Homo sapiens: one gene and its partner. The protein of the gene in region 1 interacts with the protein of each later gene in a biochemical or structural test. Each region holds a gene or a part of one and is shown in the gene's direction. Other genes may lie near its edges.

The links. Proteins that work in one complex are often made in the same cells at the same time.
Region 2: of the proteins of EEF2K (region 1) and EEF2, one has a biochemical effect on the other in vitro, tested with the Homo sapiens proteins (one study listed by BioGRID).

The regions. Positions count from the first base shown.
Region 1 is NC_000016.10:22,250,892-22,258,419, forward strand, and holds part of EEF2K (eukaryotic elongation factor 2 kinase), read left to right. Parts: intron 1-259; coding exon 260-431; intron 432-5,856; coding exon 5,857-6,006; intron 6,007-6,361; coding exon 6,362-6,494; intron 6,495-6,751; coding exon 6,752-6,879; intron 6,880-7,528. UniProt on the Homo sapiens protein: Threonine kinase that regulates protein synthesis by controlling the rate of peptide chain elongation.
Region 2 is NC_000019.10:3,982,309-3,989,894, reverse strand, and holds the start of EEF2 (elongation factor 2), read left to right. Parts: upstream 1-4,431; 5' UTR 4,432-4,514; coding exon 4,515-4,517; intron 4,518-5,544; coding exon 5,545-5,759; intron 5,760-6,603; coding exon 6,604-6,785; intron 6,786-6,876; coding exon 6,877-7,088; intron 7,089-7,322; exon of another isoform or gene 7,323-7,388; intron 7,389-7,470; coding exon 7,471-7,586. UniProt on the Homo sapiens protein: Catalyzes the GTP-dependent ribosomal translocation step during translation elongation.

The DNA.
Region 1 (7,528 bases):
ACCCCACTTACCTCTGCCCTGGTGTTGGGAGGTCAAGGGAAATGGGATAGGAGACCTTTAACAGTGACCTTTAATCCCCCTGTCCCAGCTCTTTGAAGGATGCAGAGGGGTGGGGACGTCCTTCTTACCTCCTGCATTTTGTTCCTGCTGCCAGCCACCCAGCCACATCAGACAGGGTCTTGCTGTCCTGAGGACCAGGGCTGTGTCCCTGGTGAACCCCAGAGTACCCAGGTAGGCCCCCTGTTGCCTCTTCCCACAGGAAGAAGCTCTCCAACTTCTTGCATGCCCAGCAGTGGAAGGGCGCCTCCAACTACGTGGCGAAGCGCTACATCGAGCCCGTAGACCGGGATGTGTACTTTGAGGACGTGCGTCTACAGATGGAGGCCAAGCTCTGGGGGGAGGAGTATAATCGGCACAAGCCCCCCAAGCAGGTGCGTGGCCCCACTACCTGCCCCCTTTCCATGCCAGGGCAGCTGGGCACAGTGTCTGGGAAAGAGGGCCATGGTGAATCCCTATTTCACCTTCTTTTTTTTTTTTTTTGAGATGAAGTCTTGCTCTGTCACCCACCACCAAGGCTGGAGTGCAGTGGCATGATCTTGGCTCACTGCAACCTCCATCTCCCAGGTTCAAGCGATTCTCCTGCCTCAGCCACCCCAGTAGCTGGGATTACATACAGGTGCCTGCCACCACATCTGGCTAATTTTTGTATTTTTAGTAGAGATGTGGTTTCACCATGTTGGCCAGGCTGGTCTCGAACTCCTGACCTCAAGTGATCTGCCTGCCTTGGCCTCCCAAAGTGCTGGGATTACAGGTGTGAGCCACCATACCTGGCCTCTTTCACCTTCTTAATAGTAGCTAATAACAACCACTGTTTACTGAGCATGATGAACCAAGTCATTTATTTTATTTTTATTTTTTTTGAGACAGGATCTTTCTTGGTTGCCCAGGCCAGAGTGCAGTGGCATAATTACAGCTCACTGCAGCCTCAACCTCCTGGGCTTGAACAATCCTCCCAGCTTGGCCTCCTGAGTAGCTGGGACTACAGGGGTATGCCACCATGCCTAGCTAATTTTTGTATTTTCTGTAGAGAAAGGGTTTTGCCATGTTGCCCAGGCTGGTTTCAAACTCCTGGCCTCAAGCAATCCATCCACCTCGGCCTCCCAAAGGGCTGGGATTACAGGCGTGAGCCATTGCACTTGTTCCAGAGTCATTTATTCCTAAAAACAGAGCTCTGAGGTCGGAATGTTTTTATCCTCAATTACAGATGGGATCTATTAGTCAGGATTTTTGTTTGCAAATGACAGAAACCCACTCAAACTGCTTAATCCGAAAAGGGAATTCATTGCCTTATGTAACTGAAAAATAATGCTGCCACAGGCACGGCTGGATGCAGGATTAAACTGAGGTTGTCAGAATCTTCCTCCATCTCTGGCCTGGGTGTTCTTCTGGGTTGGCGTCATTCTCAGGCAGCCTCTGCACTAGTGGTAGCACTCTGGCCCCCAGCAGGCCCAAGTTCTTGTTGGAATGACAAAACCTATTTCCCCAGAAGTTCCAATAAAAGTCCCAGAGCTGCGTTTCATTGGCTCTGATTAAGTCAGATCCCTATTGCCGAGCCAATCACAGTGGCCAAGGGGCAGGAATATGCAGATTGGGCACACCCTAGCCATGTGCCTGCCCTTAGAGCTAGGAATGTAGGTGTTCCACCCAGACCACAGGGACTGAGACTGGAAAAGGTGAGATTCCCAAGAAAAAGCGGAAGAAAGAGCTGGGAATGTATATTAGTCCGTTTTCACACTTCTGATAAAGACATACCCAAGACTGGGTAATTTATAAAAGAAAAAGAGGTTTAATGGACAGATAGTTCCATGTGGCTGGGGAGGCCTCACAATCATGGCAGAAGGCAAAAGGCACATCTTACCTGGTGGCAGACAAGAGAGATTGAGGACCAAGCAAAGGGGGTTTCCCCTTATAAAACCATCAGATCTCGTGAGACTTATTCACTATCATGAGAACAGTATGGGGGAAACCACCCCCATGATTCAATTATCTCCTACCAGGTCCCTCCCACAACACGTGGGAATTATGGGAGCTACAATTCAAGATGAGCTTTGAGTGGGGACACAGCCAAACCATATCATAGTGGATACTATGTCTGCTCTTTGGGAAACCCTGGGCTCAAAGAGGCTAAATGACTTCCCCAACCAGGCAGAGCTGTAGCCAGGTCTCAAATGCAGGCTTTTCAACCCCCTGCTAGGTTGGCACCTTCATTTGAGCCCCTAGGGTGATGAGTGACTGAGGCCAAGCAGAATTCCCTGTTGCCTTTCGGCATTTGAGGAAGGATCCATGCCTCTGCCCTGCATGAGCCCACAGCTGAGATCTTCCACAGCTTGAGCATCTACTACATACAACGCACAGTCTCCTGGGTGTGCAGAATTTATTGAGCACCTGCTGTTTGCAGAGCCCTTGATGAAGCATACTTGAGGCAGGCGCAAGAAGCCACAGTCCCCACCCTGGGGGGCTGTGGCTTCCTCTGCAATTTGCGGCCTTCCAGCCTGGCCTCCTTTCTCTTCCTCCACAAGCTTGTTCCTGCCCCAAAACCTTGGCCCTGGCTGTGGGCTTGGCGGGCATCTTGTGTCACCGTAATTCTTGCATGGCTAGCTACTTCTTATAGTTCAGGTCTCAGATCCTGTGTCACCTCCTCAGCCAGCCCATCTCAGACAACCCTAAGAAGTGGTCCCTCTGCCCCAGTCACCTCTGTCACATCATTCTAACTTTTTTTTTTTTTCCTGTTCTTTGGAGCAGTTAGTATGTCATTCATTTAGTTAATATTTTAGGTGCTTCTCTCCCCTAAAGGCAGAGATTTTATTTTATCATGTTCACTGCTGTCTCCTAGTGCCTAGGTGTCCAGTAAATAATACTGTGGTAGGCCTGGCACAGTGGCTCATGCCTGTAATCCCAGCACTTTGGGAGGCTGAAGTGGGCGGATCACCTGAGGTCAGGAGTTCGAGACCAGCCTGGCCAACATGGTGAAACCCCCGCCTCTACTAAAAATACAAAATTAGCTGGGCATGGTGGTGCACGCCTGTAATCCCAGCTACTTGGGAGGCTGAGGCAGGAGAATCACTTGAACACGAGAGGCGGAGGCTGCAGTGAGCCGAGATTGGGCTACTGCACTCCGGCCTGGGTGACAGAGCAAGACTCCATCCCCAAATAGTAGTAGTAGTAGTAGTAGTAACAATAATAATAATAATAATAATAATGTGGTTGACTTAAGGGAGGGAGAGAGACGTGGTTGTTTGAGAAGGTGCTGGTTGTCCACTGTGGCTGTACCACTGCCCCTCGCCCAGGGAGCCCTCTGGCCCAGCAGGTGGCCCTGCTGTAAGTTTCCTTGTAGGGATGGGACCAGCCTTTGGGCAGAACCCTCTGAGAACCGCCGCTCCCTGCCTTCCCCTCAGGCCGGTTCTCAGAACCCATTGAAGCCTTGTTTGGGGCAAGTTCTCACCTCTCAGATCAGGACCCCTTCGGCCTCTGCATCTGTTGTCTGCATGTCTGGTGACCCACTCTCCATGGATGGTCGTTTCCTTGGGAAACCTGGACCTAATCCTCCCAGGAGGTGGCATTGAGGAGGACATGGGAACCAAGGATGAGTCCTTGTGTAACAGGGCAAGAGGTGCAAGCTAGAGTCCCTAATCTCCCCTACTCCACTTTACAAACCATATGCACTATTTATACATTTTCTTCTGTGTACAAAATTAAACATAGACTTTATAAAAACAAAAAAAATTCGGCAAGGAATGTCAAAGTTCCCTATAATTTCCCATTGCAGGGAGAAAACTGCTGTTTAGAGGTTGGTTTATATTTCTCTAGAATTGTAGCTCCTGATAAAAATGAGTTGCCAGGCACAGTGGCTCATGCTTGTAATCTCAGCACTTTGGAAAGCCCGGGGTGGGGGGGCGGATCACTTGAGGTCAGGAGTTCAAGACCAGCCTGGCCAACATGGTAAAACCCATCTCTACTAAAAATACAAAAATTAGGCAGGCATGGAGGCGGGTGCCTGTAGTCCCAGCTACTCAAGAGGCTGAGGCAGAGGAATTGCTTGAACCTGGGAGGCAGAGGTTGCAGTGAGCCAAGATCGTGCCACTGCAGTCCAGCCTGGGCAACAGCCTGGGCAATAAAATATAAAATAAAATGAAAGCAAACATTGCCTGGCTCCTTTTTGCATCAATAAGTTTAATTCACAGACTGAGCCTGAGACCCTCTTTATGCAGGTAAAGAAACTGAGGCACAGAGAGGTGAAATTCAGAAATGTTCCCAAATTCACAGTTTTACTGTAAGGCATAGTCTAAGTTGCTTAGCAAACAGACCCACAAAATATGTGTGGACACGAAATGGTTTCTTTTTCACTTGTGTGGAGGTCTTGCATTGGTGGGTGGCTTGGGGTAGGCTTGTTTGTGCCTCATCTCCTTGAAGCCATCTAGAGAACTCGTTCCTTTGGTCTTTTTTCTCTGCCATCCCCTCAGGGGTTTGCCATGGACCACATAATCAATTCTGGCTCCCAAGCAGAGTCCACCTTACAGGGCAGGCTGGAGTTACATCATTGCAATGCTCACTTCCCATTGGCTGGGCACAGTCATGTGGCCACACTTAGCTGCAAGGGAAGCTTAGCAATGTCATCCCTAGTGGGTGGCTGTGTACCCTTTTAAAACTCAAAGGAAAACAGAGCTGAGCACAGTGGCTGCAGCTTGTCATCCTAATGCTCTGGGAGGATGCTGGAAGACAAGAGGATTGCTTGAGGCCAGTTCTTGAGGCCAGTTCAAGACCAGCCTAGGCAACATAGTGAGACCTCGTCTCTATAAAAAAATTTAGATATGAGCCATGTGTAGTGACACACGCCTGTAGTCCTAGCTTCTCGGGAGGCTGAGGTGGGAGGATCACTTGAGCCCAGAAGTATGAGGCTGTAATGAGCCATGATTATGACACTGCACTCCAGCCTGGGCGACAGAGTGAGACCCTGTCTCTAAAATAAATTTTTTTTTTTTTAAGACGGAGTCTCACTCTGTCATCCAGGCTGGAGTGCAGTGACATGATCTTGGCTCACTGCAACCTCTGCCTCCTGGGTTAAAGTGATACTCCTGCCTCGACACCCTGAGTAGCTGGGATTTTTGGTACGCACAAGCACGCCCAGCTAATTTTTGTATTTTTATTTTATTAATTTTTTTTTTGAGACGGAGTTTTGCTCTTGTTGCTCAGGGCTGGAGTGCAGTGGTGCAATCTTGGCTCACTGCAACCTCTGCCTCCCAGGTTCAAGTGATTCTCCTGCCTCAGCCTCCAGAGTAGCTGGGATTACAGGCATGTGCCACCATGCCTGGCTAATTTTGTATTTTTGGTAGAGACAGGGTTTCACCATGTTGGCCACGGTTGGTCTCCAACTCCTGGCCTCAGGTGATCCACACACCTTGGCCTCCCAAAGGGCTGGGATTACAGGTGTGAGCCACCATGCCCAGCCTTAATTTTTGTATTTTTAGTAGAGGCAGGATTTCACCATGTTGGCCAGGCTGGTCTCGAACTCCTAACCTCAACTGATTCACCTGCCTCAGCCTCCCAAAGTGCTGGGATTACAGATGTAAGCCACCGTGCCCAGCCTAAAAATATATTTTTTTTAATTTTAAAAAAATTAAAGGAAAAGAGGAGATTAGATTCTGGGCATCATCAGGAGCTCCTACAATAGAGAGCTAGTAAGTCATGGAGCCAGGGTCTGAGCCCAGGCAGGCGAGTTCCTCTGAGCCCTCCCCTTGCCGCTTCTCAGAGGAGGTGCGCCTGGGCCCTCCCGCCTGAGCCCACTCCCCATCCCACCAGGTGGACATCATGCAGATGTGCATCATCGAGCTGAAGGACAGACCGGGCAAGCCCCTCTTCCACCTGGAGCACTACATCGAGGGCAAGTACATCAAGTACAACTCCAACTCTGGCTTTGTCCGCGATGACAACATCCGCCTGACGCCGCAGGTGAGGCCGAGCTCACCTCCACCCTCTGCCCACCACAGCCCTTGGGGTGAGATCCTGGCCAGGCTCAGCCCCTAAAGAGGAAGGTCCCTGTGGGCTTGGAGTCTCACCCCCAGAGAAGCCTCTTGGAGCATTCAGAAGGAGACCCGTCACCCCATGACAGCTTCTGTCACCTAAGGTGGCCACAGGACCTGCAGCCCAAGGTCCCTGCCCAACTGAAGAGGCCTTTTTCCTTTGTCTTTTCCTCTATATAACTCCTTGAAGAGAAAGCCCCTCAGCATGGGCAGAGGCGTGGCCAGTGCCTGCACAGACCTCAGCCTGTCTCTTGACATCTCGTTTTCCTTCCTGTCCCCTGTAGGCCTTCAGCCACTTCACTTTTGAGCGTTCCGGCCATCAGCTGATAGTGGTGGACATCCAGGGAGTTGGGGATCTCTACACTGACCCACAGATCCACACGGAGACGGGCACTGACTTTGGAGACGGCAACCTAGGTACGTGGGGAAAGCCAGCCTGTTTCTGCAGAAACCACGCTCCCTGCTAAAACCTCTGAGTTCTTCGTACAGCCAAGGAAACAGGCTGAGACACTGTACGCGCTTTTTCAAGATCATGGAGATGGGAGCCTGGATGTCTGATGCCTCCCAGCTTGGCACGTTTTATACCTGCCCTGGCCATATGTATGAGGCCCACCACTGCCTGTCCCCCGTCACAGAGCAAAGCAACACTCCAGACACCCCCGCTCTGTCCACAGGTGTCCGCGGGATGGCGCTCTTCTTCTACTCTCATGCCTGCAACCGGATTTGCGAGAGCATGGGCCTTGCTCCCTTTGACCTCTCGCCCCGGGAGAGGGATGCAGTGAATCAGAACACCAAGCTGCTGGTGGGTGCCCAGTGTGACCCTGCTTGGCCTGGCAGGCCCTTCTGCTACTTGCAAAGCAAGCCCTGCTCCCCTGTGTGGTGACAGCCAGGTCAAGCAGTGCTTAACTGATGAATACCAGGGCTGGAAGCATCTGTCCCATCCATGCCCCAGCCCGTCCCCTCCAGCTCAGTGCACAAAGCCCTCCTGAGCGTCCTTCCAATCGAGCAGCTGGTATCTGCTTAGGTTGGGCCCATTTTTTACCAGAGTGAGGGGAACAGGCACGTGGAGATAGTGAGAAGGCATGTGGTGTGTGTGTGTGTTTGTGTGATGTATTGACAAATGACTGAACTAGTCTTAGACCTGGCTCTCCAGGCACCTCACCAACATACCTCCCATCCTCCCATTGCTACTTGGACCAGGGACAAGAGAATGTTGCAAAGACCAGCTTGGGATGCTGGACATAGAGTGGAATGCTTTCTCCAGCTCTGGGCTGTGGAATGTGGTCAGTGCTTTAGGGGATACTGGCAGGTCCTCTGAGCCTCTGTTCCAGATGCCCTTTCTTGGAGGCCTTAGGTTTAATCCCTGACTGATTTTTTATTTTTTAAGACAATATATCAGCTCCTAAACAGGCATGTTTAGGAGCTGTGGATGAAGGGGTTTCAGGGTTAGA
Region 2 (7,586 bases), on another chromosome or scaffold:
TCCCAAAGTGCTGAGATTACAGGCATGAGCCACTGCGCCCGGCCTTTTTTCTTTCTTTTCAGGGTGTGGAGTCTCCCACTATCACCCAGGCTGGAGTGCAGTGTCGTGATCTCTGCCCACTGGAACCTCGGCCTCCTGAGTTCAAGCAATTCTCCTGCCTCAGCCTCTTGAGTAGCTGGGGCCACAGGCGCCTGCCACCATGCCCGGCTAATTTTTGTATTTTTAGTAGAGATGGGGTTTCGTCATGTTGGCCAGGCTGGTCTCCAACTCCTGACCTCAAGTGATTCACGCACCTCCGCCTCCCAAAGTGCTGGGACTACAGGCGTGAGCCATTGCGCCTGTTCTTACTACACAGACTCACCAGGCCTCCCTGAACCCATTTGTTTAATCATCTAAAAGACAAAATCCACTTTTTTTTTTTTTTTTTTTGAGACAGAGTCTTGGTCTGTTGCCCAGGCTAGAGTGCAATGGTGCCATCTCAGCTCACTGCAACCTCCACCTCCCGGGTTCCAGCAATTCTCCTGCCTCAGTCTCTCGAGTAGCTGGAACTACAGGTGTCTGCCACCATGCCCAGCTAATTTTTGTATTTTTAGTAGAGATGGGGTTTCATCATATTGGCCAGGCTGGTCTCGAACTCCTGACCTCATGATCTGCCCGCCTTGGCCTCCCATAGTGCTGGGATTACAGGCGTGAGCCACCACGTTTTTTGTTTTTTTTTTTTTTTTTTGAGATGGAGTCTCGCTCTGTCGCCCAGGCTGGAGTGCAGTGGCGCGATCTCGGCTCACTGCAAGCTCCGCCTCCCAGGTTCACGCCATTCTCCTGCCTCAGCCTCCCGAGTAGCTGGGACTACAGGCGCCTGCCACCATGCCCGGTTAATTTTTTGTATTTTTAGTAGAGACGGGGTTTCACCATGTTAGCCAGGATGGTCTTGATCTCCTGACCCCATGATCTGCCCGCCTCGGCCTCCCAAAGTGCTGGGATTACAGGCGTGACCCACCGCGCCCGGCCTTTTTTTTTTTTTTTTTTTTTGAGACGGAGTCTCTCTCTGTCACCCAGGCTGGAGTGCAGTGGCACAATCTCAGCTCGCTGCAACCTCCACCTCCTAGGTTCAAGCGATTCTCGTGCCTCAGCCTCCCGAGTAGCTGGGATTACAGGCACGTGCCACCACACCCAGCTAATTTTTTTGTATTTTTAGTAGAGACAAGGTTTCGCCATGTTGGCCAGGATGGTCTCAATCTCCTGAGCTCATGATCCGCCTGCCTCTGCCTCCCAAAGTGCTGGGATTACAGGCATAAACCACCGTGCCCGGCCCGTTTTCCCAAATCTGAAATGCATCTAGACAACGGTTGCAGGACCGGGCTCCTTCCCGATTAAACCACTACTTGAGTCGGATTTGGCTGCACCTTTACTAGCTCTGTGAACGTGGGCAAATGACTTAACTTATCTGAGTCTCCATTTTCTCAGGCGTAAAGGAGGCCACCCGAAGCCCAGGGTGTGGGTAGGTTAGCTGAAGTATTTGATTTAAAGGACCGTGAGGTCAGGTCCTAGTAAACGCTCAATAAACTGTTAAAAGACAGTGTTGGCCGGGCGCGGTGGCTCACGCCTGTAATCCCAGCGCTTTAGGAGGCCAAGGCGGGCAGATCACGAGGTCAGGGGTTCAAGACCAGCCCGGCCAACATGGTGAAACCCCTGTCTCTACTAAAAACACAAAAAAATTACCCGGGTGTGGTGGCAGGCGCCTGTAATCCCAGCTAATCGGGAGGCTGAGGCAGGTGAATCGCTTGAATCGGGTGGCGGAGGCTGCAGTGAGCTGAGACCGCACCACTGCACTCCAGCGTGGCAACAGAGCGAGACTTGGTCTTAAAAAAAAAAAAAAAAAAAAAAAAAAAGGCAGTGTCGAGAGGCCTGCACTGGCGACTGTCGGTCAGCAGGGGCCGCTACTGCGGTCTCTGAGCTCTCCTGGCGCCGCAGCAGGCGCATGCGCAGCGGAGCTTCTCTGCAGAGGTGAATTTTTTTATTGGTCCCCACCCTAAAAGACCCAGCGTATATTTATTATTGTACTTATTACAGCTGACCTGGTTGTGGCTGCTTGTGGTACTCCAGGATTCTGCTCTTCATGGATGTGGGGATGACAGTGGGAGAGATCCTTCCCTGCCAACACCTGGCTCCATCCCTGCAGTTATGGGGTTGAAAATTCCCCTTTTTCCCTTAAGCTCTCCCCCTAGTTCTTTAAATTACATGATGTTAGAATTTTTCAATAAGCAACCCATGCACTTGAGAAGAAATTCAACCCCTCTTTTATTAAGTTCCGGGATACCTGTGAACAGCCCCCCCTCCTTTTTTTTTTTTTTTTTTTTTGAGACAGAGTCTTACTCTCAGTCGCACAGGCTGGAGTGCATGCAGTGCCGTGATCTCGGCTCACTGCAACCTCTGCCTCTCGGGTTCAAGCGGTTCTCCTGCCTCAGCCTCCAAAGTAGCTGGGATTTCAGGCGTTCACTACCACGCCGGGCTAATTTTTTTATTTTTAGTAAAGACGGGGTTTCTCCATATTGGGTAGGCTGGTCTCGAACTCCTGACTTCAGGTGATTTGCCTGCCTCGGCCTCCCAAAGTGCTGGGATTACAGGCGTGATCCACCGCAAGCAGCCTAACCCCTCTTTAATTTTTAAAATTTTTAAAAATTTTTTTGAGACGGAATCTCGCTCTGTCGCCAGGCTGGAGAGCAGTGGCGCGATCTCGGCTAACTGCAACCTCCGCCTCTCGCCTGACACCTCTTTTAATGAAAACCTTTCCATTACATCTCTGAAATGCTCCCACTTTGCACGGAAAAAACGGCTGCGAAGCCCCCAATAGGAAACGCAACACGTAGCAGGTGCTCAGTGCATTTAAAAATTTTGAAGAATTTTATTATTAATAATGCGAAACTGACTACCCCTCTGCTAAAAACTCATGCCCCAAATGGCGCATGCGCTTGACTTGCAACTTAACTAAACGCGTCACAGGTACAGGTGTAGGTGGTTAGGGACCCCGGGCGCTCCCATCTGCTCCCTGCCGCGCCCTCTGCCTTTCAGAGCCTCAATCCTTTCGGAAGATACTTTTCAGTTTTCCACTGGGTTAAATGGTGATAGGAAGAGCAATCATCCGTTAAATGAAACCCAAGGTTGAGACAGCGCTTTGTAAAGCAAAGTGCCCGAAGCATTCGTGAGGGGGAGGAGTGTACAGGTTTATTTTAGAGTCCAGGCTGGAATTTGCATTGCTTTTTGTGGATCCACACCTCCCCCTCTCCCAGCCCAGGAAAAGCACTGCAGTGGCTCTCCTGTTTCACAAAGTGAGTTTAAGGAAAGATGTACCGCAGGGGGTTCATTTGCACTGTGAGAACATCATTCATGCAAGAAATGCTGAGTACCTACTATGTGCTAAACAGCGGGTTGGGCTTTTCATAAGGGATAGAGTTACACAATTGAATGCCAATTCATGAGATATGAAATACATTCAACTGTTTCTTAGGGTCAGATTAGGACACAAATGCTAAACAGTCTTCCTGCGCCTCCCCCTGGAGAGGAAATGAAATAGAAAATGAAATTGTGCCAGTAAACCGCTTAGCCGGGTGCCTGGGACATGGCAAACCAGTCCTGAAATAAATAACTGTTTTATTAATAGCAATCTTAGCTAATTAAAATAGATAGCGTTTATTGAGCGTTGGGTATCAGGCACGGTCCTAATTCTTTTAGATGTCTTTAGTTCGTTTCACTCTCCCCCAAACAATAGGGTGGTATTGATCACCTCCGAGCAGGTGAAATTGAGGCACAGAGAAATCCTAGTAGCTGGTAGAAGAACACGCAGTGTGGTCAAGCTAGCAAGGTGTTTGGTCCACTGCTATATCTACAAAACCCCTAACAATGCCTGGTGTATAGATGCTCAGTATGCATTTGTGGGATCAGTGATTCCGATGCCTGCTTCTTATAAAGTTTTTATTTAGAAATAATTACAGGTAAGGAGTTGCAAAAACAGTATAGTGGTCGCGAGTGTCCTTTTTCCCTCGGCTTCTCCCAGGGGTATCGTCTTACGTAACAATGTCCAAACAGGGAAATTGACTTGGGTATAATCCACAGACTCTATTCACCTTGTAAATTGGTTTTAATAGAAGTACTGGACAACTTGTAAGCTAATATCGTTGCTATGGTTCTCGTTCTCAGCTAAAACGGCGCTCTTTACTTTGTGCACCTGAACACTGCACACCGAGGGCGACCACCGCCCCCGAGATGCCCAGCTTCTATTCTAGAGCGCCGCGCCGGCGCCGAATGGGTTAACGGGCGGGGGGACACGCCTCCGTGCGCTTGCGCGGCGTCCCTTCGCCCCGCCTTCGCAGCGCAGTCACATGACCCGCCCAACCGGCGTCCGCCTATAAAAAGCTGAGTGTTGACGTCAGCGTTCTCTTCCGCCGTCGTCGCCGCCATCCTCGGCGCGACTCGCTTCTTTCGGTTCTACCTGGGAGAATCCACCGCCATCCGCCACCATGGTGAGTAACCCTGCCTCGCTGGTGCCCCGGAGCGGCGGCGGGGCCTCCGCGGGGCCTACGCTGCCTAGCCTGGGACGCTGGGGCCCCCCGTGCCAGGAGGAGACGTAGCGGCGGCGGGGCCGGAGGACCCGGGGCTGGGGAAGCGGCCGCCGCCATGTCTGTGCGCCGCGCTGTTCACCGAGCCCTTTCTCCGTTTCCGAGGGCGCCATAACCTTGCCCAGACCTGGTTGGAGCTGGGTTGTTAGCGGGGATGGGGGTGGGGAATGATGATGTGGCAGGCGTAGTAATGGCGGGCACCGCGGTGGAAGCGGGGAGACAGGGAGGCGCCTTATGTAACCCGCGGGCCGCGAGTTTGAGATCGATTTTCTGCCGGGGGACTAGGGGCGGCAGGGAATGGCAGAACGAGCAAAGCGACACCTGAAAGGCTCCCCTTTTCCTTCCAAATACCTTCTCCTGATGCTGTTAATCGTCGACCTTAGGCACTTGTCCTTCCTATGACTCCCAGATGTACAAAGACTCTTATTGAGACACGAGGTGTAGGCTTGTGGCAGTTAGGGCCGTTCCGGCTCCCCGTTATTTCCTGGGGTGGGTGGCCTTGTCTGATCCCGTTTGCCAAGGGGTGACCTTGCATTTTATGATGAAGCTTCTTGCTCGGGGAAGTTTGGGTGGCCCGGTGACAACGTGGAGGGGGCTTTAGGAGAGGATTCATCCCTTACGTGTTTGGCCCCAAATGAGACTTTAGTATTTGTACCTGGTATCAAGGAAATCTGTTGACACTCAGTTTTATTCCTGAGCACTTTTATTTCTGGGTTGTCAATCATGAATGACACCTATTAACGGTGGTTCCTTGGAGATTGCGGGGTGGCTCTTAAGGGGTGTTAGGCTGGCAAGATTCGGTGGGCTTGGGGCACCCCAGCACCAACCCCCTCCTGGCCTTGGGCATGCTGGTTCGTTTGGACTGAACGCTCCGTGCCATGCTGTGTTCCTGGAAATCACGAGCTGGTCTGAGCCTCCTTGTCTTGCCCAGGTGAACTTCACGGTAGACCAGATCCGCGCCATCATGGACAAGAAGGCCAACATCCGCAACATGTCTGTCATCGCCCACGTGGACCATGGCAAGTCCACGCTGACAGACTCCCTGGTGTGCAAGGCGGGCATCATCGCCTCGGCCCGGGCCGGGGAGACACGCTTCACTGATACCCGGAAGGACGAGCAGGAGCGTTGCATCACCATCAAGTCAACGTGAGCTCCCTGTGCCCTCTGTACCCAGGCAGGGAGGTGCTGGCCTGGCAGCTGGAGGCCACTGGGCCAGGGTGCGCGGGGAGAGACTTGGCAACGTCTCTTTCCCCTGGTTTCTTAATTCATGGGAGAATGAGTGAGGTTCAGTCCAGCGAGACAGGATGGAGAGGCACAGGGATTCGGGGTACTGCGAGCTGGAAGGTTTTCTTGAGGAGGGGGCTTAACTCCGTGGTTCTCCCTCCCTGGGGGACTTGCCCCCACTCCTACAATATCTGGAGAGGTTTGGCTGTCACACCTGGGAGGGGAGGGTGTTCTAGTGCTTGGGACGCTGGGAAGCTCCTGTGTTGCACTGGATGATGTTCATTCCATGTCAGTTTCTGGCCCCGATATGAGTAGGGGGAGCGCAGAGTACGGTGACCCCAACTGCTTTTTGTCCTGGGTTGGTACATTGGTGAGGGACTCTGGCTAAGGCTCTTCATTTCCCCTGGAGCAGGGGCAGAAGTGAGGAGGGGAGGGTCGGAGTCTCTGGAGGCTTTTGCCGTCCTGCTGGGTCTTTTAGTTGCTACTTTGAGTCAGGTGTGATGAATCTTGGGACCAAGTCGGTGGGGCAGGATGTCTGGTCAGGAGGGCTCTGAGGATCTGGCTATGGGGCTGGTACCAGGAGTTCCCTGTCATGGGGGTGGCATGTCTCGGACAGAGGCAAAGGACAAGGGTGGGTTGGCTCTTGTGGGAGCCTCTCCAGGGATGAGTCATGGAGGGAGGAGCAGCCTGGCTTCTGACAGCATCCCAGACTCCCTGGGCCAGGTGTGTGGCTCCTGTCCCCCTGACGAGTCCCTCCCTCCATCAGTGCCATCTCCCTCTTCTACGAGCTCTCGGAGAATGACTTGAACTTCATCAAGCAGAGCAAGGACGGTGCCGGCTTCCTCATCAACCTCATTGACTCCCCCGGGCATGTCGACTTCTCCTCGGAGGTGACTGCTGCCCTCCGAGTCACCGATGGCGCATTGGTGGTGGTGGACTGCGTGTCAGGTAAGCAGTGGGTCCCCCTGAGGCACGGCCTGGAACCGGGGGCCATCCTTGCTTGAGGATGACAGCGCCGCCCTGTCCCCCGTGTCCCCAGGCGTGTGCGTGCAGACGGAGACAGTGCTGCGGCAGGCCATTGCCGAGCGCATCAAGCCTGTGCTGATGATGAACAAGATGGACCGCGCCCTGCTGGAGCTGCAGCTGGAGCCCGAGGAGCTCTACCAGACTTTCCAGCGCATCGTGGAGAACGTGAACGTCATCATCTCCACCTACGGCGAGGGCGAGAGCGGCCCCATGGGCAACATCATGGTACGGCCCTCCCTAGCTGGGTGGTGGGCTTGCCGCAGCGGGATCTGCAGGAGCCGGTGGGGAGTGGAGTTGAGCTGAGGGGGACTGGAAGTGTGTTTTTGCCAGGAATGTTGGGTGACAGAGAAGGGGGCTGGAATGTTTTCATCCGACTTGACCCAGCCCTTGATCTTTGGGCAGCTGGAAGAGACGAGCTCAGGGAACGCTGCCCTGGGTGGTGGAGGGGCTGGCCCCCCTATTCGTGATGACTGATCATTTCTTCACTTTGACCAGATGTCTACTGAAGAAAGCCTGCGTCTGAGGCCCATGCCCAAGGCGCCCAGCCCGTAGCTTCAGGCTCTGCGCAGGGGCCCTCACGGCTGCTTCTCGTTTCTCACACTTCCAGATCGATCCTGTCCTCGGTACCGTGGGCTTTGGGTCTGGCCTCCACGGGTGGGCCTTCACCCTGAAGCAGTTTGCCGAGATGTATGTGGCCAAGTTCGCCGCCAAGGGGGAGGGCCA